Linked DNA regions of Homo sapiens: region 2 is linked to region 1. The links come from fine-mapping of genetic effects on gene expression. A gene starts in region 1. The other region holds a variant in brackets. All regions are shown on one strand. Distances are from middle to middle. Region 1 holds the start of ENTPD4 (ectonucleoside triphosphate diphosphohydrolase 4). Region 2 overlaps ENTPD4 (ectonucleoside triphosphate diphosphohydrolase 4).

Region 1 (12,334 bases):
GTGCAGTGGTGCGATCACAGCTCACTGCAGCCTCAAACTCCTGGGCTCGAGCAATCCTCCCACTTTCACCTCCCAAAGTGCTGGGATTATAGGCATGAGCCCCTGTGCCTGGTCCTTATGTTTTGTTTCTTAAGAAGAAAGAGGCCGGGCATGGTGGCTCACACCTGTAATCCCAGCACTTTGTGAGGCCAAGGCGGGCGGATCACGAGGTCAGGAGATCGAGACCATCCTGGCTAACATGGTGAAACCCCGTCTCTACTAAAAATACAAAAAAATTAGCCGGGCCTGGTGGTGGGTTCCTGCAGTCTCAGCTACTCGGGAGGCTGAGGCAGGAGAATGGCGTGAACCCAGGAGGTGAGCTTGCAGTAAGCTGAGAATGTGCCATTGCACTCCAGCCTGGGTGAGAGAGCTAGACTCCATCTCAAAAAAAAAAAAAAAAAAGAAGAAGAAGAAGAAAGAGAAGGACGGAAAAAAAGAGGGAGAAGAAGAGACTGTCTTAGTTCATTTGTGCCACTATAACAAAGTACCACAGACTGGATAATTTATAAAGGACAGAAATATATTTTCTCACAGTTCTGGAGGCTGGGAAGTCCAAAGCACATTTTCTATCTGGTAAAAACCTGTTCCTCAAAGATTGAGCTATATAGGTATCCTCATCTGACAGAAGGTATGGAAAGACAGAAAGGGGTTGAGTGCTAAGTACTTACAGGGCAGAAGAGCAGAAGAGAGTAAACACGTTTCCTCAAGCCCTTTTATAAGGTCTCTAATCCTACCCATGAGGGCTCCACCCTCATGACTTAATTAATGCTGAGAGGCAGAACCCCTTAATGCTAATCACATTGGTCATTACGTTTCAACACATGAAAACTGGGCGGCACATTCAGACCACAGCAGGGAGGGAAAGGAGAAGAGAGAAAGGGAAAATCTTACTTCTAGTCTTCTCTTTTGCCTCTTAGAAATCATAGATTTTAGACCTGGAAAGAACGTTAAAGGTCAGCTTAGCCATCTCCACAAACCCCTTTCCTTTTACAAATTATATATGGATGGTGAGGACCAGTAAGGCAAACTACAATTTCTAAGCTTACACAGTCTATTGAGGATAAGGATTCAGGTTTCCTGCCTCCCGGCTTGGTACTTTTTACATTAAGTCATCCTGTCTCCCATTTAGTTTTATAACCTTGAGCAAGTCACCCAACCAGTCAACAAATATTTTTAAAGACCTAACAACAAGTAATGGAATATCCAACCAAAAGAAATTTAAACAAATAAAGAGCTTATTTTTCTCTCCTAATAAGAAGTCAGGGGGTAGACACAGTCACTGGTACTAGTTCAGCGGTTTAATGATGCCATCATGGACCCAAACAGTTCTATCTTTCAGTTCCATCGTATTTATTGTTGGCTCTTATCAGGATGACTGTTGTCCCATGGTTGCAAAATGGTCATGTATCTCCAGGTATCACATATTTGTTCAATATTTCATTTAACACTTTTAAAGTCCCATGCACAAAATGAGTTACTTTGATTTTACAACCATGATAGCTGTATTCTTTGTAGATGCTCCATCAAGCTGAGGAAAATCATACCCTTTATAGTTGATAAAGGCTTTTTTTCAAAATTATGAATGGGTGTTGAATTTTGCCAAATTTTTTTTTGCATTGACTGAGATCATACGAATCATATGAATTTTCTTCTTTATTCTGTTTATGTAGTGAATGACATTGATTGATTTTCAAATGTTGAGCCAATTTTGCATTCCTCAAAAAAGAATCCCACCTGGTAATGCTATCTTGCTCTTTCAGATGTCGCTGGATTTGATTTGCCAATTTTGTTTTTGTTTTTGTTTTTTTGAGATGGAGTCTCACTCTGTCACCCAGGCTGGGTGCAGTGGCGCAATCTCAGCTCACTGCAACCTCCACCTCCCAGGTTCAAGCAATTCTCCTGTCTTACCCTCCTGAGTAGCTGGGATTAAAGGTGCCCACCACCTTGCCTGGCTAATTTTTGTATTTTTAGTAGAGATGGGGTTTCACCATGTTGGCCAGGCTGGTCTCAAACTCCTGACCTCAGGTGAGCCACCTGCCTCGGCCTCCCAAAGTGCTGGGATTACAGACATGAGTCATTACACCTGACCTTGATTGGCCAATATTTTGTTAAAATTTTTGCACCTATGTAAGAAATATAGGTGTGTGATTTTCTTTCCTTTTTATTTCTTGGTATCAGGATTATTCTGAATTATAAATTAAAAAGTGTTCTCTCTTCCTTTGTTCTTTCAAAAGAGTTTATATAAAATCAATATTACCTTTCTTAAATGATTGATAAACATTTACTAGTGAAGCCATCTTGCTCTGGAATTTTCTTTTTAGGACCTTAAAGATATGGGGTGATTCAAATGTTCTATTTCTTCCTGTGCCAGTTTTGGGAAGTTGTATTTTTCAAAGACTTTTTCCATTTAATGTAAATTATCGAAATGATCAGCATAAAGTTATTCATAATGTTTTCTTATTATATTTTCAATTTCTGTATATCTGTAGGGATCTTCCTCTTTTATGCTTGATATTTGTTATTCGTGTTTTTTTGTCCTGCTCAATCTCACTAGGAGTTTAGCAATTTTGTTAATATTTTCAAAGAACCAACTTGTAAGTTGGTTAATGTCTCATATTATTTTTTATTATTTTTTTCCTCCTATTCACTTCGAGTTTAATTCACTTTCTTATTCTAATGTCATAAGGTGGAAACTTAGATAATTGATTTCAAACCTTTTTTCTTTACTAAAATAAACTTTTAAAGCTATAAATTTCTCTTGAAGGACTGTTCTGACTGCATTCCACATATTTTGATGCAGTTTCATTATCATTCTGTATGCCGTGTTTTCTAACGTTCTTACAACCATGCCTGGCATAAAGTACTTAGTAAGTGTTCCCTCCTGTTAGCTCCAGTTTTTGTTTTTTTTTTTTTGAGATGGAGTCTTGCTCTGTCGCCCAGGCTGGAGTGCAGTGGTGCGATCACAGCTCACTGCAAGCTCCGCCTCCCGGGTTCACGCCATTCTCCTGCCTCAGCCTCCTGAGTAGCTGGGACTACAGGCGCCTGCCACCACGCCCAGCTAATTTTTTGTATTTTTTTTTAGTAGAGACAGGGTTTCACCGTGTTAGCCAGGATGGTCTCGATCTCCTGACCTCGTGATCCACCCGCCTCGGCCTCCCAAAGTGCTGATATTACAGGCTTGAGCCATCGCGCCCAGCCTAGCTCCAGTTTTTGTTTCTCTTGTTAACAAGTGAGAATGGGCCCCTTCAGAGCCTCTTTGCTGTTTCCACTGACTGAAATACTATTCCTTCATATAGGCCCAGAATTCTAATAAATTCCCATTCATTGTGCAGGTGTGACCTCAGACAGCGTTACCTCAAAGAAGCTCTCCCTGATGAACCAGACCAGGATGGTCCTCTCATGTACTAAGTTGAATAGTGACCACCCCCAAAAAATTCATGTCCACCCAGAACCCATGAATGTGACCTTATTTGGAAATAGGATCTTTGCAAATATAATCAAGTTAATATGAGATCATAAGATCACACTGGATGAGGGTGAGCCTTGAATCTAATATGGCTGGTGTCTTTATGAGAAGAAAGAAACTTGGAGACAGAGACACAGACACACAGAGATAATACCATGTGACAACAGGGGCAGAGACCAAAGTGATGCATCTACAAGCTGAGGAAGGCCAAGGATGGCCAGTAGCCACCAGAAGCTAGGAAGAGGCAAAGAAGGATCCTCCTCTAGATCTTTAGAGAGAGCACAGCCCTGCTGACACCTTCATTTCAGGCTTCTACCATCTAGAACTGGAAGACAATAAATTATCTTGCTTTAAGCCACCCAGTTTAGGGCAATTTGTCACTGCAGCTCTAGAATGTAATATGCCAAGTTACACGTTTCCATACTTTCCTATATTTTTCTTTCCTAGCTCTTATCAGACAATTATTACATATAAATTATCAGGAAATATGGATGGTGTGATAATACTTACTAGTCTGGCTTTTCTTCTCTCTCTCTCTGAGATGGAGTCTCACTCTGTTGCTCAGGCTGGAGTCCATTGGCGTGATCTCGGCTCACTGCAACCTCCACCTCCCGGGTTCAAGCAATTCTCCTGTCTCAGCCTCCTGAGTAGCTGGGATTACAGGCACAAAAAAGCCACTATGTCCAGCTAGTGTTTGTATTTTTAATAGAGATGGGGTTTCACCATGTTGGTCAGGCTGGTCTTGAACTCCTAATTTCAGGCAATCCACCTGCCTTGGACTCCCAAAGTGCTGGGATTACAGGCATGAGCCACCATGCCCGGCCTAGTCTGGCATTTTAGTAGAGCCCTCCTTAAGGAAGACTAACATAACCCCAACCAGTGTCTCCAATGGCAAAGATTTTGAAAGGCAGATAATTTCGAAGGAGACTGTCCTTAAAATCACAGTATGTCAGTGGCCAGCTTTAGCTTCTCAATGCTAGCCTTGGGTCACAGGGTTTTCTAGTGTGAAAATTATCCAAACGAGTAATTTCTTATAGCAACAGATTGTCAAAAAAAAGACACTGATGCGCAAGTCATGTGGGAGTCTGAAACATTGGTTCTGCTCTCCTCTGCCTCCAGGGGGTCTTGGCCAAGTCACTCAACCTCTCTGGGTTCCAGGCTCTTAACTGTAAAAGAAGGTGATTGGGGCTACACAGTAGAGTCCCTTTGGCTCTAACCTTCTGAGGCTTCATGGTTTCTTCCGTTAACAGTAGCTGAATCCAGGAAGAGGAGGTGACCCAGGCGGGTGCTGGACCAAGAAGGATTCTGTGTTAAGATGTAGAACTGCCAGTTCTGTCTATGCTTGTTTTACTTGATAAATGGAATGGAGTAGACGTTTCTAGGGCTCTTGTTTTTAAAAATCTTTTAAAGTGGCTGGATTGCTGGTCACTTCCTATCTCTGGGCCACAGTGCATTCACCTGTATACAAGGTGGAAGAAAGGATGGAACCCGGGATTCCCAAGGTCTCTTCCGGCTCTCAAGTGCAAAGTTCTGTGTCTTCAAAGCAGTTTATTGCTAAGCCAGAGAGCTAAGAGAGCTTAGCCTTGTACTAAGTGTAGGTCATGGGGTCAATCTCAGGAACACCCTTCGCTTTATTTCTTCTCATAACCATTGCGTGTGTTGGGGAGGGCTGGGGCAGTCTGCCTCCCCCAACATAGGCACTAACATATGCCATCGACGGGCAAGAATGAAATCCTGGCTCTACCTCTCACGAATCAGGTGGATCTCAAGAGAGACTGAATAAGTGTGAGCCTCCGTTTCCCCATCTGTGAAACAGGGAGAGTTACCGGCAAAGGTGTAAATGTCAAGAGTTGAGCAACAATGCCTAGTCCTTACCAGGTTTTCAAGCGCTATTTTCCATAACCGTTAGGAGCGCTAAGGAAAGATAAACTGCGGTGTCCTAAGTACGCTGAGGCTCGCTGACGACCAGACGAGCACCACGCCACAGTACTGGGTGCCTCCGTGCTCCCACGTCCACATTTCCCGTGCACAGCACACTGGCGTGGCCGCGCGGGTCCACGGAACAGCCCAGCGCTCGGACGCCAATCATCCCGCATCAGGCTCCGCCCCCCAGCGCTCAACGCGCCCCTCGGCGTGCGCGCTCCCGCCGCCAGCGGGCGCGCTCCGGGCGCAGGCGGTGACGTGTTGCCGGCGGGGGCCGGGCGGGGGTGCGGCTCCAGGAAAGGAGCGCGGCCTCCAGGAAGCCGGCTGGCCGTGATGCTGCCCACTGGTGGTCCCCCGCTCCCGGGGTCCCCGGCCGGCCAAGCAGGTGAGGTTGCCTTCCGAGCGTGGGTGAGGGGAGGGCGGGCGGCCGAAGGGGCCGGCGAGTGGGTTGGAGTGCGGGGGCCGGCGGCGCGGCGAGCGGGCCGCGGACGAGCCTCTCTGCCCCAGGCCCCCACAGCCGCCTGCTTAGCCCCGCGGACCGGTTCCCGCCTCCCCTGCCGCGCGGCCACATCCGAGCGCCCCGGGACCAACCCCTGTGAGCCCTGGCGGCCGGCGCGCTCCCCCAGCCCCTGGCAGGGGACACCTGGCGGTCGCGCGCCTCGGGTGACCGCTCGGGATCCCCCCCTCGAATGGGCGGAGCTTGACCGGGCAGCAGGGATGCTGCACCCGGGACCCAGCCGGCCCTGCCTGCCGCTTTAAATGATGACATTCGCTCGTCTTGTCGTTTTCGCTTTGCTTTGCTTTTGCCAGATTTCATGTTAGATTTCTTCTTGGAAAAATGGAGCTTATTGGGCAGTAAAGTGATGATGCACAGCATTGTTTCTGAACTTGAGTAATGCGCGGACCCCTTTTAAAGGAACAATTCTCTCATGGTCTAGAATGTGTCCCAGAACCCTTAGGGTGCTTCAGACCCCAGTTAGATGAACCCTAGTGCAGAGCGTTTTCAGAGAACACTTATCACGAAGGAAACTAAAGAGATCCTTTATGATTCAGGAACTTTCAGGCTAGAAGGTAAACTAGAGGTAATGGAAGAATTCTAAATTAGACACTCAAAGCCCAGGCTAATTTCGCATTGCAGTCTTTGTTGTCTCCTTTTTGTGATGAAAATACCAAATTATCCAGCTTTAGAGAGGCCTAAAAGAGTTATATTATTTGTGTTACCATATATTTGATGTTTTTGTATCAGGTTTGTTAATTCTGTTTGACATAGTAGAATTATAAAATGGAACACTAATTCGTGTAGTTGAATCGTTTATTTCTCTGTTTACCTTAACAGAGGTCTTGTAGTTGTTGCATGTTGAATCTATGGCTTATATTCTTCTACCTCTAATAGGAAATGTGTGACTGAGGCCCTTGAGGATATAGTCTAGGAAGGAGACAAAAATGAACATTTATCTAAGGATTTATATTCTCTACGTATTTACTCAGCATGTTTATTTAAAATAGACTACTCATGAATAAAGAGACGATTCCAATTGTAAGAAAACATCAGGATGTGTAACAGGTTAAATCTTGACAAAGAAACATGTTGACTTGTGCCTTGAAAGAAGTGTAGTCTTGAGAGGAGGACACGGTGGTGGCTCGGAGGAAGTGCTGTTAGTAAATGCCTGAGGCAGGCATGGAGACAGCTTGTGTGGGAGAGAAGAGAGAGACCTGCTGCACTGGAGCTGAGAGATGGTATCTGGGACTGATGAGAGGATAGGTTGGTGAGATAAGGTGGACCAGTTGATGGATAAAAGGTTTCAGGTGCCACACAGGAAACTTGGTGTTGATCCATGGCCTTCCAGAAGGTTCTTAGCTGATCATATTTTGAAGGCCGTGTTTTACAAAGAGTTGCTTGTAAAGTGTGGCGTGCACAGTGAAGGCAGAAGGTGGGTGAGTCGCCAAGAGATCTGTCTTGAGGTAGTGGTGCCTGCTGTGGTCATCTTAGATATGAGGGATATCTGAGGAAGAATCGACTGGCTTGGAGAATGATAGAAGATTGTCAACACCGGATGTGGGAATCAAAGCTGAGAACCAGGTAATCCAGGTCAATGGGGATTGGTGGTACCCGTCTTAGACCTGGAGAATTTGGAGGGTGGTATTAGAGTTTGCATTAGAAGATTTCAACCCTAGAGTTGGACTAGTTGAGCTTGCAGTAACAGGGCTTCAATGAGCTTGGAACGTGGAACTGGAACTTGAGGAAAGTCAGAGTTAATTCAGGAAAAGTGACCAGAAAAAGACTACTTAAAATGGGAACCAGAATTTTGCAAATTAATAGAGGGAGGAAGAGGTTAAGATTTTATATTGAAAAATAAAATTAAAATGTGTAAGATAAATATTGAACATACAGATCATAAATGCAACTACATACATATCTTCTTAAAGAATGAATCAAGTTGTCTTCATGTATCTTTTGTCACTACTGAGTAACGGTGCCACCCGGCAGCCTCCACATCAGCCTCTCACTCTCAGAAAGACAGTTGTTTCTTGCAAAACGCTGCCGGAATGGTTGAGAGCATCTTTAATTTTTCCAGGTTCTCTTGAATCCTTTGATATTCAAATCATTCTTTTCTGAAGTACCCTTCCCTGTGGTACCTTTGCTTATTCAGAAGCTGAGCTCTCCCAGAGGCTGACTTCTCTGTGATTTTGTTTGCCTGTGATTTGAGTTCACTAACATCTGTTTCCTTGCATCTTGTGTTTTTCCACCAGAGGAACCATTTCCCTTTGTGGTTGATTTGCATTGTTTTCGTCGTTATCTGTAGAACTGTCAGTGAGAGACTGACAAAGACATTGACACCTGACTGTAGGCTTTATTCCAATAATGTTCAGCCAAGTAGGGCCCCACTAGCTGAAATCATGAGAATTAATGCATCTCTCTGGTGATAGGTCTAACACAATTTAGGCTTTTTTAAAACATGTCAGTTTTATGTGGTATTACTGAATTTGCCTCCCAGTGCCCTGGTGCGAAGATTCTTAGCTAGAAGGACAATTGGAGTTTACATTTGAAGATCAAATTACCATTTAACTCTTAGGCAATAATCCATTGTACTTTTGTCCTGAGTTAAAATTACAGTGCTTCAGCAGTTATAAGCTGTCCTATTTTCTCTGCTTTTAAACACAAGCTTTGTAACTTAAAATATCTGTTTGTCCTTTTGATCAAAATCATCACATATCTCAAAAAAAAAAAATTCCTGAGACAAACCTCAGATGACACAAAGTTTCCTAAGTGCGCTGTGATCATTCTCTCGGTCACCTTCCTCTTCGAAGTGTGTTCTTTCTCACCCCATCTAGAATTGACCTCCCACCTCTAGGAATCTTTTCCTGCTAAAGCTAGCCTTCTCTGTGCTCTTCTCTGAGCTCTTATAACAAGAATCCCAGTAATTTAACATTGCCTTTAATTAGTATCTTGACTATTTTCTGGGCATTAGTATTTTCTCTGTAGCAATCTGCAAACTCCATGAAATTTGGAGTTGGGTTTGTTACTCCTCATGTCACCTTCGTAGTCCTGACTTTCTTCCTCAAGGACCAGTTTGCCTTTAACCATGACTTTAAGCTGTTAAATAAAACTGTCTTTTCTTTGGTTCTCAGTTCAGCTATCACACAACTATCACTGATGTTTTTTTTAAATGTTCAGATTGGAATTCCTGTGTCCTGATAGGCTTTTAAGATAGGCTTTCTCAATATATTCGGAAAAGTATTTGATCCTGGAAACAAGGTTTCATCCGTCAAAGGTAGCTTGTTAAAAATTGTTATTTCCTCTGATGATAAAATTAATATATGTCCTTTGAAAAATATAGGCAAGCCTAGGGAAGAAAATAAAGATGATACCTGATCTCATTGCCCAGAAATAACTAAGCACTGTTAATATTTTGGTTTCTTTCCTAACATTTTATCCCCCCATGCATGGGGACATTTTTTCACTTAATATATCATGAACTTGTTTTCATGTCAATAAATAGATCTATGTCATCACCTTTAATAGTCACATTGTATTCCATTGCATAAATGTACCCCACAGTGGACATTAGTAACAGTGTTTTGCTGTTCCACACAATACTATGATGACCATCCTATAGATTTTTTAGTGAATTTTCCTGATGACTTCCTAAAGATGAATTTCTGGAAGTGTGATGGGTAGAGCAGAGGATAGGCATGCATAAGTGTTCGTGTGTGTCACCCCAGTACCCCCAGAAGGTTAGTGATGTGCCTGTCCAGAGTCTCACAGCAGTACTCATCGACCTTTTCCCCTTCCCCTGTTAGCCAAGTATCACCAGGCCTTCATGTCTGTCAATATGATAGCTGTTTTTATTTCTATTTATCTGAATACTGATTATTTTATCAGCCATTTCAATGAGATTTATTTCAATAATCTCAAATTGTCTTTGCTCATTTTTCTGTTCAGTCTTTCTCTTATTTCTTTATAATAACTGGCTATGTAAAGGTTATTTACTCTTTGTCATGCACTTTACAAGTACTTTTCCCAAGTTGTGTGTATTCATAGCAGGGAGGGATTTTTTTGTTTGTTTTAAGCACACAGAAGTTTTAAACTTGTGTAGCTATTTTATAAAAACATTAAAATCCATTTAAACGTCTAGATCATTGATTTTTTTTTCTTTTTACTTTTTGTGTAAACTTTTAAATCACAGACATTGTTTGTCCTAAATTTGGGGTACATGGTACAATATGGACACCATATTAAAACTTGAACTAATTAAAGTGATTTTTTCCCCTTTGTCAGGTAGGCATTATTAATACTTTTTACTCTCTAATATCTTTGTGTGTATGTTTTATTTCCTCCACTGCCTTATAGATTCTTTAAGGTCTGGGCCTATATCTAATTCATCTTTGTGTCTCCCATTTCCAGCCATTTGTGAAACCTGCAATAGTTACTCATGATTTGTGTGGCAGGCACTGGTCACGGGGGAAACAGAAGAATAAGAGGCTGTCCCTGCCCTAGTGGGGCTTGTCATGTAATGAGGAAGCCAACCACACGTATAATACTTTAGCCCACTGCTGTGATAAGCAAATACTCTGGGGATATGAGGATTAGGGAAACTCACCGAGGACTCATGCTTGATTTGTGTCAGCATTGATTCTTAGGAATGCAACTGACAACACAAGGAAGAGGTTCATTCTGCTAATGCCAAGGAATGCGAGGCATTTCAGTGATCTGTAGCTTGTGTTTCATGTGGCTGGAGCCTAGGGTACGTAGGAGGGGTCTGTCAGGGAATGAGACAGAAAGATAGGCCCCAGATCAGTACTGTGCAAAGAGCTTTCTGCGATGATGTCAGTGTTTTATGTGTGGACTGGCTAATGCAGAAGCTATATGTGGCTATTAAGCACTTCAAAGGTGGCTAGTACAACTGAGGAACTCAATTTTTAATTTTATTTAAATTTAATTACTTTAAATAACCACACATGGCAAGTGGCTGCCTCATTGGACAGCACCGGACTAAATCATGAGGGACCTCTTTTACACCCTAAGGAGTTGACTGTTTCCTGAGTGAGAGAGAAAAGTTGGGGGATGGGGAGTTATGATTCCCTGTTTGTTTTGGAAATGTCACTCTAGTGTAGAGTTCTTAACCCTTTTGGGTCCCAGAACTCTAAAACTTGACTTCTTGCCAGTCCCTTTCCTAGGGTCTGCAAAGCTACAACTGCAGCACTCAACTGAGCAGACCAAAACCTGGGCCTGGGGGAGCTCCCATTCTGGGGGAAGAGACAAAAAAGAGAAACACAAGACACGCATTATGTTAGAGGACAAGGATGGGTGGATTCTCACACTTGCATCCCACCTCTCCCTCCCAGGAGCTGTGTGACCTTAGACAAGTTACTTAGCCTCTCTGCCTCATCCATAAAGTGTTGTGATAATAGTATCTGTCTTGTAAGTTGTTAGGGGAATGAAGTTAGTATTTGTACAATGTTTGGAACAAGGCCTGGTACATAATGAGCACTATAAAAGCATTTAATAAATAAATAAATGCTAAGGAGAAAAGATCAATCAGGGAAGGGAATTGCTGGGGAGGGGGTAGGCATTGCAGTTATTGATCAGGTGACCAGGGAAGTCCTCCTTGAGAAGGTGACATTATTTGAGTAAAGACCTGAAGGGAATGAAAAAGTGAGCCATACAGATTACTTCCTAGTAGAGGGGGCAACAAGTTGAGAGACCCTGAGACCAGAGAGTGCCTGGCATTTTTGAAGACCACTCGGAACATTGGTGTGGCTGGAATGCAGTGTAAAGGAGGAGAGAGCAGACGATGAGGTCAGAGCCTTAACAGGTGTTAGATCCTGTAGGGCTTTGTAGATTGGAGTCTTTGGAGGATTTCTGAGTACAGAAGTAATCTGATCGGGGTCCTGAGCAAGGGGTGGGAGTGTGGAGCTATCAATTTCCAAGAAAGTATCATTGCCCGAGGGTGATAAAGGCGAGGTCACTGGTTGAGACTGCCGGTAGAAGACTAGTTAGGCTGCTCTTTAGAGCAGGCAAGAGATAAGAGCCTGATCTCAGGCAAAGATGATAAGGAAAGGGATTTTAGATAAGCTGAGGTTAAAGAAATTAAAGGAATCTGTAAGAAATTACATTTGGGGCCAGGCACAGTGGCTCACGCCTGTAATCCCAGCACTTTGGGAGGCTGAGGCCGGCAGATCACCGGGTCAGGGGCTCGAGACCAGCCTGGCCAACGTGGCGAAACCCCGTCTCTACTAAAAGTACAAAAATTCACTGGGAGTGGTGACGGGCGCCTGTAGTCCCAGCTACTCGGGAGGCTGAGGCAGGAGAATCGCTTTAACCTGGGAGGAGGTTGCAGTGAGCTGAGATTGTGCCATTGCACTCCACCAGCCTGGGCGACAAGAGCAAGACTCTGTCTCAAA
Region 2 (12,334 bases), 31 kb after region 1:
TAGCTGGGTGTGGTGGCGGGCGCCCGTAGTCCCAGCTACTCAGGAGGCTGAGGCAGGAGAATGGCATGAACCTGGGAGGCAGAGCTTGCAGTGAGCCGAGATCACACCACTGCACTCCAGCCTGGGCGACAGAGTGAGACTCCGTCTCAAAAAAAAAAAATGCATTGTTTATAAGCCCTGCTGTCTAGAAGTATTGCGTTTAGCCATTTTGAGTACAGCATTAAATTGAGGAGTGGGGAAGAGGGAAATTCACTTGATTTTTGCTGCACAGGATATCTGCCAAAAATAAATGAGATTTCTGGGGTTTCTCTAAGGAATGTTAAATTTAAACACATGCACTTTGATACTGGAGGGAGGTGGAAAGATGCATTCTGTCAGTGGAGAGGGGACTGAATAGTGATGCTTTCATAGAACCAAAAAACTTACTGCCTGAAATGATAATCCTCTTTTTTCTCTATCTTGAAAGCTCTAACCTGAAGAGGGTGATTTTTTTTTTTATTTATTGTTCAGGTCTGTTACTGTATATGTTTTCTTTGCAAATTTAAATTTTTTAAACCATTTATATCCAAAACAGAGAAACATGGGCACCAGGAGATAACCATTTATAAAAGTGATAGTGAACTATCGACTACAGCTTTGTGCGAGTGTGTGAAAAATCCCAAGAAACCAGCGTGAGGGGAGGCAATGCTGGTTCTTTAAAAACACACACTTCAGAATTTACTGGTACATTTTATTTAGAAAAATCCTCGTTACTGTTATCTTTTCCTGACCGCAGGTAATTACGCTCCTTATTCCATATTTCAGTGGCATTAGAACACTGTGGTTTTGAAAGAATTGGAAATTCCTAGTTTCACCAGTTTCGGTTTTATTGGAACTAGAGCACATGCCCACTTCTTGCTCAGTATTCCTCAGTGTTTCTGCTTAATCGTGCCTCAGTTTCTTCCAGCTTCCAATTGGTGTTTCCCCCACCCCCCTTAATTAAAAGTCATCTCAGCTTTTAATCGTACTGGGAGACCCCATGCACAGCCTGCCGAGTCCTCTTCCTAACCGCATTGACTGAGGCTGTTGCTGGCAGCACCACTGTAAATCCAGAAGGGAAGAGTCTGCATCCAATACAGGAAATAAATTCACATTTTGAAGGAAAAAATTCGACAATTTAAGCCAAAATCTAAAAAGGACAATTGGATTGGCATATGTGAGATTGGTGTTTTTTCACCTATTTATTTAGTTGAGAAGTTTGGGGAATTCTCGTACAGTTTTTTTAGGTGGAGTTTGTTTTGTGCGAGTGTCTGTGTGTGCTGTTCCCTAACTCCAGAACAGTTAAATTCCTGTAGTTGGTAGCAGATTAGTACCCAGAAGTGGGGTTGTTGCTATAACAGATAACTGAGGATATTATAAAAGTGGCTTTGGAACTAGGTACTGGGCAGAGGCTGGGAGAGTTTGGAGAAACAGGAGAGAAAAGGCCTGTATTGCCATGAACTGAGCATTAGGGGCAGTTCTGCTGAGGGATCAGAAGAGAAGACCAAGGGAATTCTGTCCCAGTTGTGGCTCAAACTGCCTCAGGTGCAGCTTAACCTGCGTCTCTGGAAGGTAAAATGCATCTGATCCTTGAGGCAAGAGCTGTGGGGGCATGGCTCCCTCACCTGGATTTCAAAGCGTGTTACCAGCAGCCTGGGGACCCAGGCTCTGCCTCTGGATTTACCTGCATCGTATTTGCGCTTCGTGGTCAAAGTTGTTAAGAAAGGGGTGAGCTTCTGGCTACCTAATAAGTTGGTCTTGGCCACCTGCCTGCGACACTTCCTGGAGGAGCCATGGATTATTGGTGGAGGCTGCAGGGAGCTGGCGATGGAGCCACTGGTGTCAGCAGCAGAGAGGGAAGAAAGGAAAGGAAGGGGCCACAAATGGTTGAAGTGGGCAGGTGGGCACCCAGGGAGTTAGGGGACCCCGCCTTCCAGCTCTGGGCATAGAAGAGTTAGTCACATACCTGAGGATCCTGAAACAAGGGCTGAGAAAACCTCATTGCTCCAGCTGAGAGGTAGTAGTGGATTTGCCATTTTTAAACAGTTGCCTAAGAAAAAACGTTGAAGAATATGCAGCAGACACTATATGTGGCCTGTAAAGCCTAGAATATTTACTAAAATATTTACAGAAAAAGTTTGCTGGTCCTTGTGAGAACAATGCAGTTCAAAAAAGGATACAGACAGAAGCATCCTCTTAAATCAGGAATGTAGTTTCCATTTGTGGGCACGAAAAGATGGACAAGAGAAGTAACCAAACTTCAATCTTAAAATATTTGTTGCACCAGAATTTCACTTCGGATTTTTCCGTCTAGATTATTTTCAAGATGAGTTTTGAAACAAACCAAGAAACCTGCCCCTCACCCAAAATTGTTTAAAAAGAGACCACTCAAGGGAGTTCATTATGCCGTATGGAGATGTCTGCAGTCGCAGCAAATCACATTCCAGAGAAGGTCTCGCGTAGGTGAAGACAGCCAGGTGCTTTCTCTAAGAGATACAGGGTGGGTGAGAGACAAGCCAGGGAGGATCTTAATTCAAGAGAAGAATTCATACCAAGAGCTGACCAAGAAGGCAGTAAATTCTGTGTACTTGTAGCAGAAGAAATTGGACTAGGAACTTGCCCAAAGCTTTATCAAAGAAAAGCATTGTGTTCAATCTTGGTAGAAACATGCCAGCAATAAGTGCTTATGTTCCATAGCCATATCATGGGCTTCTCACTTTTAAACCTCCTCCAGGGGATGTTCTCAGACATTTCACAATCCCTCTGGGGACATTACAGTAGAAGAGAAACACATGGAACTGTACCAGTGCTTTTTGCCCATGTTCATCCTAAGCTCCGGCTTTAGGCAGTGCTTTCTGACCTGGGCGGAGTGAAGACGCTGCTGGTGGCTGAGGCCAGTAACATGGGGCCCCTGCCCAGCCACCCTGAAGGCTGGGTAGGTCCCTCTTTTCACCACCAGTTTTCCACATCTGTGTACTCTAGATTAACAAACTCTGGATAAACAGATATTTACATTTTAAACTCAGGCCTACACAGAGTAGTTTTCCTTATAAGGAGCATGTATCACTTAGCAAGAAACTAAAAATGGCAAATGAGTTTTTCATCCTTTAAGAAAAAAATCAGCTTTAGAATTCTCTGCGGTCAGTTGTGTGCAATGCAACAAAACTACCTTTCAGTAAATTACTTAGTTATTTATTTCAGTGTTTTGTTTCTTTTGATACTAAGTTTCCCTTTCAATAATGAATGATGTGACCAACCAAGGAGAATTTGTTTGTTCTGTACTAAAATTATATTTTACAGTTAGGAATTATAAAAAGCAAGGGAGCATCTTTAAATGTTTTTTGTTTAAGCGATGTCTTCCATCCAAAGTAAGAATAATACTCTCGGAAGGTCCTTTTGGTGTCATGTCACTTGCTGTATGTGGCAGCCTTACAGTGCCACACTTGGGTACTGAAAAATCAATAAAACGAAAGTTCATCATCCCATGGCCCGTAGACTGTGTGGGCTTGCTTCCTTGTCATCTTTGAATCTTCTTACTCATTAGAATGATGAGTTGAACTTGAGTCCAAATTCAGTGAAATACATTGTCTGAGTCTGACGCACACTCTTTGCATGTGTTGTGTTGGGTGTGCATACAGTGAAGCACAATTGTGTGGGGTTGTGGAGAGGGCGTCCACACTCTCTGCAGCTCAGAAAGCAGATATTTCACAAGTAGTGACCAACCCACGACGTTAAGCCATTCACCAACAATAATTGCCACTCTGAGATGACTGTTTATAAGGTCACCATTTTAAGTACCTACTTGTATATAGACAAGGAAAAGTAATAAAATTAACCAATTTTTATGTATTTAATAGTAACAGCAAATGCTGACTTTATGTTACACTGTTTTGCAGTTCGATCTAAGCTTAGAACCTTTGGCTTACTTCCAGAAAATTATGACTGTCATTATTAATGTTACGTGTTACCAATATGGAGGATGACATTAGACGCTCAGCATGTTTCTCAGCCGTTGGAGAATACATAGATGTTCTCCTGGAGCAGGAAGGTGGGCCTGAGCCATAACCTGAAAATAGATGATAGAGACAGATGGGAAGGGAAGGGGACCAGCTGTTAGGACCAACAAAAATAAAGGCCTGAGACATGCCGGAGAGGAGAGGGAAGCGCAAAAACAAAATGAGAGAACAGAGCCAGCAAAGTGAGCTCAAGGGAGGTCCTCAAGCCATTGATCGCTAGGAAAACAGGACACAGCATTAAGATAGAACTGTCGTAAATAATTTTTGAGGCAGTGCAATGACTATAGGGCTTTTTGCCTGACTTTAAATACGTTAAAATATCTAAGATGTTAAAAGACATCTAAATTTTTATTCCACTTGGTGGAAGAGAAGTCAGTGCCTATTTCCAACACTAACCATGTTGACAGGTCTGAAAAGCCATGGTTCTGTGTTTTTGTTTTCAGTCTGTTTCCATTTGTCCTATGAATTGGCATGTGCCCTGTGGGTTTTTTTGGTTTTTTTGAGATCCGGAAATGCTAATGGTTTGCACAGAGGGGGTCGTGAGGTGCAGGTCACCTCTGTCAGAGTCACAGTGTCTTCTTTTGGAAACGTCATGAAAAGACAAAGGAGTGCCCGGCTAATCCCAAAGCACGCCTTGGCAGAGTGGATCTGCCTGGAGCATCCATCCGTGGCAGCATGAAAGGCAATCCTGTGAGAGTCTTCCTGGCCCCACCTCGTCTGGGAGCATGTGGGCCTGTGATCCCACCTCCTCCTAACAAAAGAAGAGTGTGTCTGTTGATGTGTTTTATTTTGCTTTTAGCCAGGCTAGTCCCCCTGCCCTTGCGCAGTCCAGCCTCTTTCTATTAATAGATCTATTAAGGTTGACTGAGACCTGCTGCAGGGGACGCTAGGGGCACTTTGGCCTTCGATCTTTGCCTTTCACCCTTGACACTGTTTGGCAGGTGAACGACATCCGGGCTCCAGACTTCATGGCCACTTCAACATTTCTGTCAACAGCCTGTGTCTGTTTCATGTAAGAGGCCCAAACAAGAAAATCAAGGCTTAAGAAGGATTTCTGCCTTGAGTAAAGGACTGAAACCTCCTCACAGAACACGATGGTGACAGGCACAAAAGACAGACTTCTTGTTTAAGTAGGTGAACTCCAAAGACGAGAGAAAAGGAGTTTTTTTCCTCCCGTTCAACCAGTCATCAAATAAACATCTCAGGCATCTGGTGTTTTGTCAAGGGATTGGGATTCCAGTGGCCCCTGTGTGACTGGAAGGGGAAAGGTTTGTCGGTGGCAACGCCATCGAAACACAAAGGAGCAGCTTTAGAATCCCCAGTGTGGGTCTTCTCTTGTGTTATTTCTACAACATCCTTGTGCCAGCTGTTCTTGCTGTTCTCTCAGGCTTCTAATTGGGAGTGTGAATACTACCTTTCACCCTTTTTGCCTTCATGAGAATCAGAGTTTGAAGTGGACAGTTCTGAAAATATTAATCATCTTTTTTTTTTTTTTTTTTTTTTTTTGAGACGGAGTCTCACTCTGTCGCCCAGGCTGGAGTGCAGTGGCGCGATCTCGGCTCACTGCAAGCTCCGCCTCCCGGGTTCACGCCATTCTCCTGCCTCAGCCTCCCTAGTAGCTGGGACTACAGGCGCCTGCCACCACACCCAGCTAATTTTTTGTATTTTTAATAGAGACGGGGTTTCACCGTGTTAGCCAGGATGGTCTCGATCTCCTGACCTCGTGATCCACCTGCCTCGGCCTCCCAAAGTGCTAGGATTACAGGCGTGAGTCACCGCACCGGGCCTAATCACCTTATTCTTGCCTGTCATTACACAAGCCTTAAACTCCAGGGACCAGACTTAGCACTTTCTTTTCCTAAGATTGCTTTTTCTCCCACTTGGCCCAAGCTTTAATACCCAGATTTTAGACTCAAAACACTTAAAACATTTGGTGGGCTCTCCTCAGCCTTGTAAAGTTCTTTGATACTGGTCATGGCAGCACAAGAGAATTTTCTGGAAGTTCCTGGCTGTTTAATGTTCAAATTACACGTTTAAATTCTCTCCCACCTCCCGTGGCCCTGTTTTCCATCAGTGTATCTATTTCTGGCCCAAATGTCCTTGAACATGGACCATGACAGGTCCTGTGTTTACTTTCCATGTTTCTACATTTATAATCCAGTAAAGAAGACACCGAGTAGTACATAGTATTTTGTAAATATTTGTAAACTAATGAAAATCTGGTTTCTTTCACAAATCACCTCTTTAGGTTTCTAAAATTTATGAAAGAAATCTTTTAAAATCTATTCTAGGCCGGGTGCAGTGGCTTACGCCTGTAATCCCAGCACTTTGAGAGGCCAAGGCAGGCGGATCACGAGGTCAGGAGTTTGAGACCAGCCTGGCCAACATAGTGAAACCCTGTCTCTACTAAAAATACAAAAATTAGCTGGGCAAGGTGGCGGGCGCCTGTAGTCCCAGCTACTCAGGAGGCTGAGGCAGGAGAATCACTTGAACC[C/A]AGGAGGCGGAGTTTGCAGTGAGCCAAGATTGTGCTACTGCACTCCAGTCTAGGCGACAGAGCAAGACTCTGTCTAAAATATATATATATTTTATTCTCAATTTTTGCTGTTCTTTCCAGATGTGCAGAGTTGTGTGTGGTTTTAAAACCATATGCAATGTGCCGTGAAGGGCGGGATGGAACCCAGGCCTCTGAGTCTCAGTTCTCTGTTCACTTCCCTCCACCAGAGTTTGTTAAGGGAGTGTTGCATTTTAAAGCTTTATTTAGAAAAACTTAGGAAAACCAAGTTTACCTCAAGTGGTTTCCTTTTTTCGCAACCTGTTCAGCCTTGACAGAAAGGAAAAAGAAATCCCAGAATTAGGTAGTAATAATAGAGGCAAAGTGAGATTGATATTTTCTGAAGCCCTGCTTACAGAAAATAATTCCTGCATATTTATTTTATTCTAAACATAGCTTCAGATTGTTTTTCATTCTAAGTTGTCCTTAAAAGTCACTTTTTAAACCTCACAAGAAGCACCAAATGTAAGGGGGAAAGGATGGATTTGACTACATCTAAAGTAAGACTTTCTGTTCATCAAAGCTAACAGATGGCAGACTAAGAAGGTATTTGCAGTGACTGAAATTGAAAAGGGATTAAAATGTACAAAGTTTCATGCAAAACAACAAGAAAAAGGAAATCCAAAAGAAAAAACCGGCCATGGATATTAATAGGTGATTCACAGCAGGGGAAACCCAAATGGTGAACAAGAGATAAACTAAGCTGAAGAAATGCAAATGTAAATTAAGACCCACTACCTTATGCCCCTCAGAATTGCCAGACTTCAAGTGCTGGCAGTGATGCGGGGCCTGGACTTCAATATTGCTGGTGGTGGTGCAAACTGCAATGCGTACCCCAGAAGGGAAGCTGGCAGCTTAAAAGTTAGCAGCGTGTGTGCCCTTTGATTCAGAGAGCCACTTGCGCGTGGCTCTCCGGAGAGATTTCTACCTGGGTCCATGAATGGACTTACGGAAGGATTCCTTGGTAATGATTCTGAGTGACTGTGTTGATGGAGGCAAGCAAGGTCTTGGACAAGTCAAAGGCGGCAGGTGCGTACCATGGAATACTGTATAGCCATGAGAGACAGACCTAGAACTATGAACAGCAAGCGGGTGGCTCTTAAAAATAGTGTTGAATACTGAAAGCAAGACATGAGAATTGTTGTATAATGCCATTATGTTAATGTAGGGCATACGGCACTGTATGTCCTATGAGGATGTGCATATTTTGATTCAAATACATTAAAATGGACGTTATGGGGACACAGATTATTTATGAAAGGAGGAGAAAAGATAAAACTGATTTCCTTGTTTTAGGGTGACCTCACATCCCAGTGAGCCCCTCAATTCAGGGCCAGGGAGGTTGATTGGTTACCCCACCCCAACCCAACCCAGGCTGTTTTCAGCACGGCAGCCTGATAAGCTGTGATTCAGACCTTGAAGTTGTTAGGCAAAAGCTCTCCACTCGGCTCTGTATTTGACTCAGGAAGAACTGAAGTCTTTATAATGGCCTAGACAGCCCTGCACCGTGGCCTCCCACTCCACACCTCTCTGACCGCAGTCCTCATTTCTCCGAGACTCCGCTCCAGCCACCCTGGCCTCAGGGCCCTCTCAGGACTTTCCATCCCCCTCACCCTGCTTCACTTTCCCCCATGATGCTTATGACCTTAGATCTAGTACACTCTGTTTTCATTACGTTCTATGTACGACTCTCCCTATTACCCTACTAGAACATGAGCCAGGGGGCAGGGGGCTTTTGTCTGTGTGTTTTCATGTTGTATCCCCAGGCACAGGATCTGATAGGCGGTAGACATTCAATAAATATCTGTGGAATGAATGAACAAGGCAGGATCCTTAAAGCGAGGGGGAATGACCAGGCTGAGAACTGAGAGAGCATGCTAAACTCCACAGTCTGGCCCCAGGGATGGGGGCAGGAAAGATGGCACCACCTCCTTGCTTTATTAGAGGGAAAGAAGGTGCTTCTTGTGCAGAACCGTCATCATAACAGAAAGATAGCTTATTACACGCCAGGCACTGTTCTAGCTCTTTGTTAGCTTACATAATCCCTGTATTAGTTCGTTTTCACACTGCTATAAAGAACTTCCCAAGACGGGGTAATTGATAAAGGAAAGAGGTTTAATTGACTCACAGATCAGCATGGCTGGGGAGGCGTCAGGAAACTTACAATCACGGCGGAAGGTGAAGAGGGGGAACCAAGACACCTTGGCAGGTGGCAGGAGAGAGAATTAATGCAGAAGGAACTACCAAACACTTATAAAACCATCAGATCTCCTGAGAACACTATCACGAGAACAGCACAGGGGAAACCACTCTCATGATTCAATTACCCCCACCTGGTCTCCCCCTTGACATGTGGGGATTGTGGGGATTATAATTCAAGATGAGATTTGGGTGGGGACACAAAGCCTAACCATGTCAGTCCCCAAAATGACACCATGAGGAGGTGCTTTGATTACCGTCACTTTACAGGTGGAGAAACAGATGTGGAAAAGGCACACAACTTGCCCAAGGTACCGAACTAGCCAGTGGTGGGGCTGGGATTTGAACGCAGGCAGCCTGGCTCCATTCTGTACTCTAGAGCTGCACTGTCCAGTATGACGGCCACTAGCCACATGAAACAGGCCAATCTAAACTGAGATGAGCTGTAAGTATAAAATATACACCAGATTTCAGGCCGGGCACAGTGGCTCATGCCTGTAATCCCAGCACTTTGGGAGGCCAAGGCGGGCGGATCACGAGGTCAGGAGATTGAGACCATCCTGGCAAATATGGTGAAACCCCGTCTGTACTAAAAATACAAAAATTAGCCAGGCATGGTGGTGGGCGCCTGTAGTCCCAGCTACTCGGGAGGCTGAGGCAGGAGAATCGCTTGAACCCGGGAGGCAGAGGTTGCAGTAAGCTGAGATCTCCCCACTGCACTGCAGCCTGGCAACAGAGTGAGACTCTGTCTCAAAAAAATATATATCTATATCTGTCTGTCTATATATAGATATAGACACACCAGATTTCAAAGACTTCATGTAAAAAAAATATGAAATATCTCAGTTTCTTTACATTGGGTACATGAGACATGACAATATTTTAGGTATATTGAGTTAAATAAAATATTATTGGATTAACATCACCTGTTTCCTTCTACCTTTTTAATGTGTACACTAGACAACTCTAAATTGCCTGTGTGGCTCACAGTATATTTCCGTCAGACGGAGCTGCTCTCGGTACTTGCTTCTCAAAGTGTGGTCCTTGAATCAGCAGCATCAACATCACTGAAGCCTGACGGAAGTGCTGGATCTCAGGCTTGGTCTCAGACCTCTTGAATCAAATTCTTCATTTTGCCAGCCTTCCAGGTCACTCATAATGCATGCTCACATTTGAAAAATGCCGCTTCAGACCAGGCAGCAATTTTTTTCTCTAAAGGGCCAGATAATAAACATTTTAACTTTGCAGGCCACATGACTTCTGTCCAAAACTCACCTCACTGCTTCTGTAGTATGAAATGAGCCAGAATATGCACGTGAATACGGATTCCACTGTAACCTGCACGGACCTAGGGGGACTGAACAAAGCGGGGCAAACACGGGAATAAAAGACAAGAGACAAAAGAGTATATTTTGAAGAAGGGGTCAGGGGGTACCTTGCCCCTAGTGGACAAGGGCCCTGAGCTTTATACAGCCCTCCTTATTTATTAGGCAAAAGAGATAGTGAGAAGCGGGGTGGAAGAAGGGGTCAGCTGCTCAGTCTAGAGCAGGCTTGCAAGACTGCATTCCTCGAACAACAGGCTAAATGTTGCAGTAGATAACCTCAGCGCCAGGGAGTGATTGCCTCCAGCAAACCTTCTGTCGGCAGGAGCAGTCGTCAGTTTTCTCACATCCTGCATTCATGATAAACAGTTTGCTGTTGGATCATATAGCCTCCAGTGGAATGCTGCGTTGGTCACATCCCATGGGCCTTCGGCTCCCTGCATATCCCCCTTTCTGTTTATGAATTAATTGAAAAAATGTAAGGCCAGGCTGGGCAGCTCTCATTCTCCGATTGGCAGTCCATCCGATTTTACAGACTATAAACAGAAGACAGAGACGAAACAACATTATTCCAAGAACTACATATAAGATGTTAATGTGGTGCCTTAGATAGGTCCAAGGGTTGAGGCTCTCCAGGCCTTGCTGGAATTTGGTCCCGTCTTCTAAAGAAGGCTGAAATTCTTGAGTTTGCCTATTTAAATCAAGAATTTTGTTTTGTAATTCACCAATATCAAAGGTGATGTTGGATGTGAACGCTCCCTGCAAATGGGCTTTCACAAGGTCCCACGGATACTCACTTTGGTTGTATTCTAAGTTGGTTACACAAATATGAGTGTGATTAAAATGACAGCGCAATTACTGCTGCAACTGCAAGCTTTGTACTTGTGCCCCTAACCACAGAACCGTGGATTTCAGCATTGCCACTTCAGTTTGTAGCTCAGTGTTAATTTTATTCTGAAGTCGCCACGCTTGGTCAGCTGTGCGCGTCCAGTTCTCCACGTACTGAGCTATTTGAATAGAATTATGCAAAGCTACAGAAGATATCACAACAGAAGTTACTAGCATGACCAAGTAAACAGTAGCAAAAATTATCATGCCTAAGGCTCTACGGGCACGATGAGTCAGCTGAGTTAGAAGTTTCACAAAATGCAAAGCAGGTGTGGCAGCCCAAGGCTCAGACAGATTAACAGGAATCCCTAGCCCAGGGATACCACCTAAAATCATCACAGTAGAGATATTATGTGTTTGCAATGTGCTATGATTAGTGCAGTGATATAACTGGCAAGATTTACAGGTCAATTGGGTATTGTTTACCTGGAGCTGGTCCTTCTTAGCTGCCAAAAAGACATAAGGATTAAAAACACAAACTGTAAATTGAGTGATGATATTCTTTACAAATGTAACCTTAGAACTGTGTTGTGACTCCGGTCGGCCTTCTCTCCGTCTTTGCATTCAGGCTCAGCTGACTCATGGCTCATACCGGGACCGGGTCCATGGTTGGCCACCCTGGGTTCCTCCAGTCTCCCATTCCATGGTCGCACGCACCTTGAGGGCACCCACACAGTTCATCCATCTCCTGCAAAAACACAAGTATACCCTCTTCCCCACATTAGTAAATCCACTGGACCTTTCCATTGGCCTTCTTCCGGGGATTTCCGTAACACTTTCGGATAAACTTTCCTCTTTTCCTCTAACACTTGCCAATGTCTTTCTGCTGGAGTCTTTACCTTCCATACCAGGAGTCAGAAAATTTAAAGTAAGGCTAAATGTAGTTTTGATTGAGGTGGTAGTTGGTCTCCTATACCCCCTTTTTGTTTTTTCAATATGCGTTGTAATGTTTGATGTGCCTGCTCTATAATGCCTTGTCCTCTAGGATTATAAGGAATTCCTGTTTTATGGGTTATAGCCCAAAGCTGTAAGAAATTTTGAAAAGCATGACTAGTATAAGTGGGTCCATTGTCAGTTTTTAATTGTTTAGGTATCCCCATGTGAGCAAATGATGACAGACAATGTGGCCATACATGACCAGCTGTCTCACCTGTTTGGCATGTAGCATGCAGCATATGAGAATAAGTGTCTATAGTCACATGAACGTAGCTAAGCTTACCAAAGGTTGCTATGTGTGCAACATCCATTTGCCAAATTTCATTTGGAGCCAAACTTCGTGGGTTACAGCCTTCTACAGGTATAGTTCCAGGGACATGCTGGCAAGTAGGACAGGCTTGTAT

The links.
Region 2: its variant is fine-mapped to the expression of ENTPD4 in whole blood (TOPMed, PIP 0.93).

Annotation. Positions count from the first base shown.
Region 1 is chr8:23,451,036-23,463,369 of GRCh38, reverse strand. It overlaps ENTPD4 (ectonucleoside triphosphate diphosphohydrolase 4), which reads left to right and starts at 5,723. Exons shown (of 13, transcript NM_004901.5): 1 at 5,723-5,813. ENTPD4-DT (ENTPD4 divergent transcript) reads right to left here and starts at 5,599. Exons shown (of 5, transcript NR_186533.1): 1 at 5,381-5,599; 2 at 4,016-4,156. RefSeq lists silencers at 5,510-6,189, 10,440-10,734 and enhancers at 8,055-8,556, 9,906-10,612, 12,028-12,334.
Region 2 is chr8:23,420,331-23,432,664 of GRCh38, reverse strand. ENTPD4 (ectonucleoside triphosphate diphosphohydrolase 4) reads left to right here. Exons shown (of 13, transcript NM_004901.5): 13 at 1-3,503. Among named protein-coding and RNA genes, the nearest start is that of LOXL2, 22 kb to the right of the region's middle. RefSeq lists an enhancer at 9,943-10,443. The variant C/A (reference allele first, on the strand shown) is at 6,529.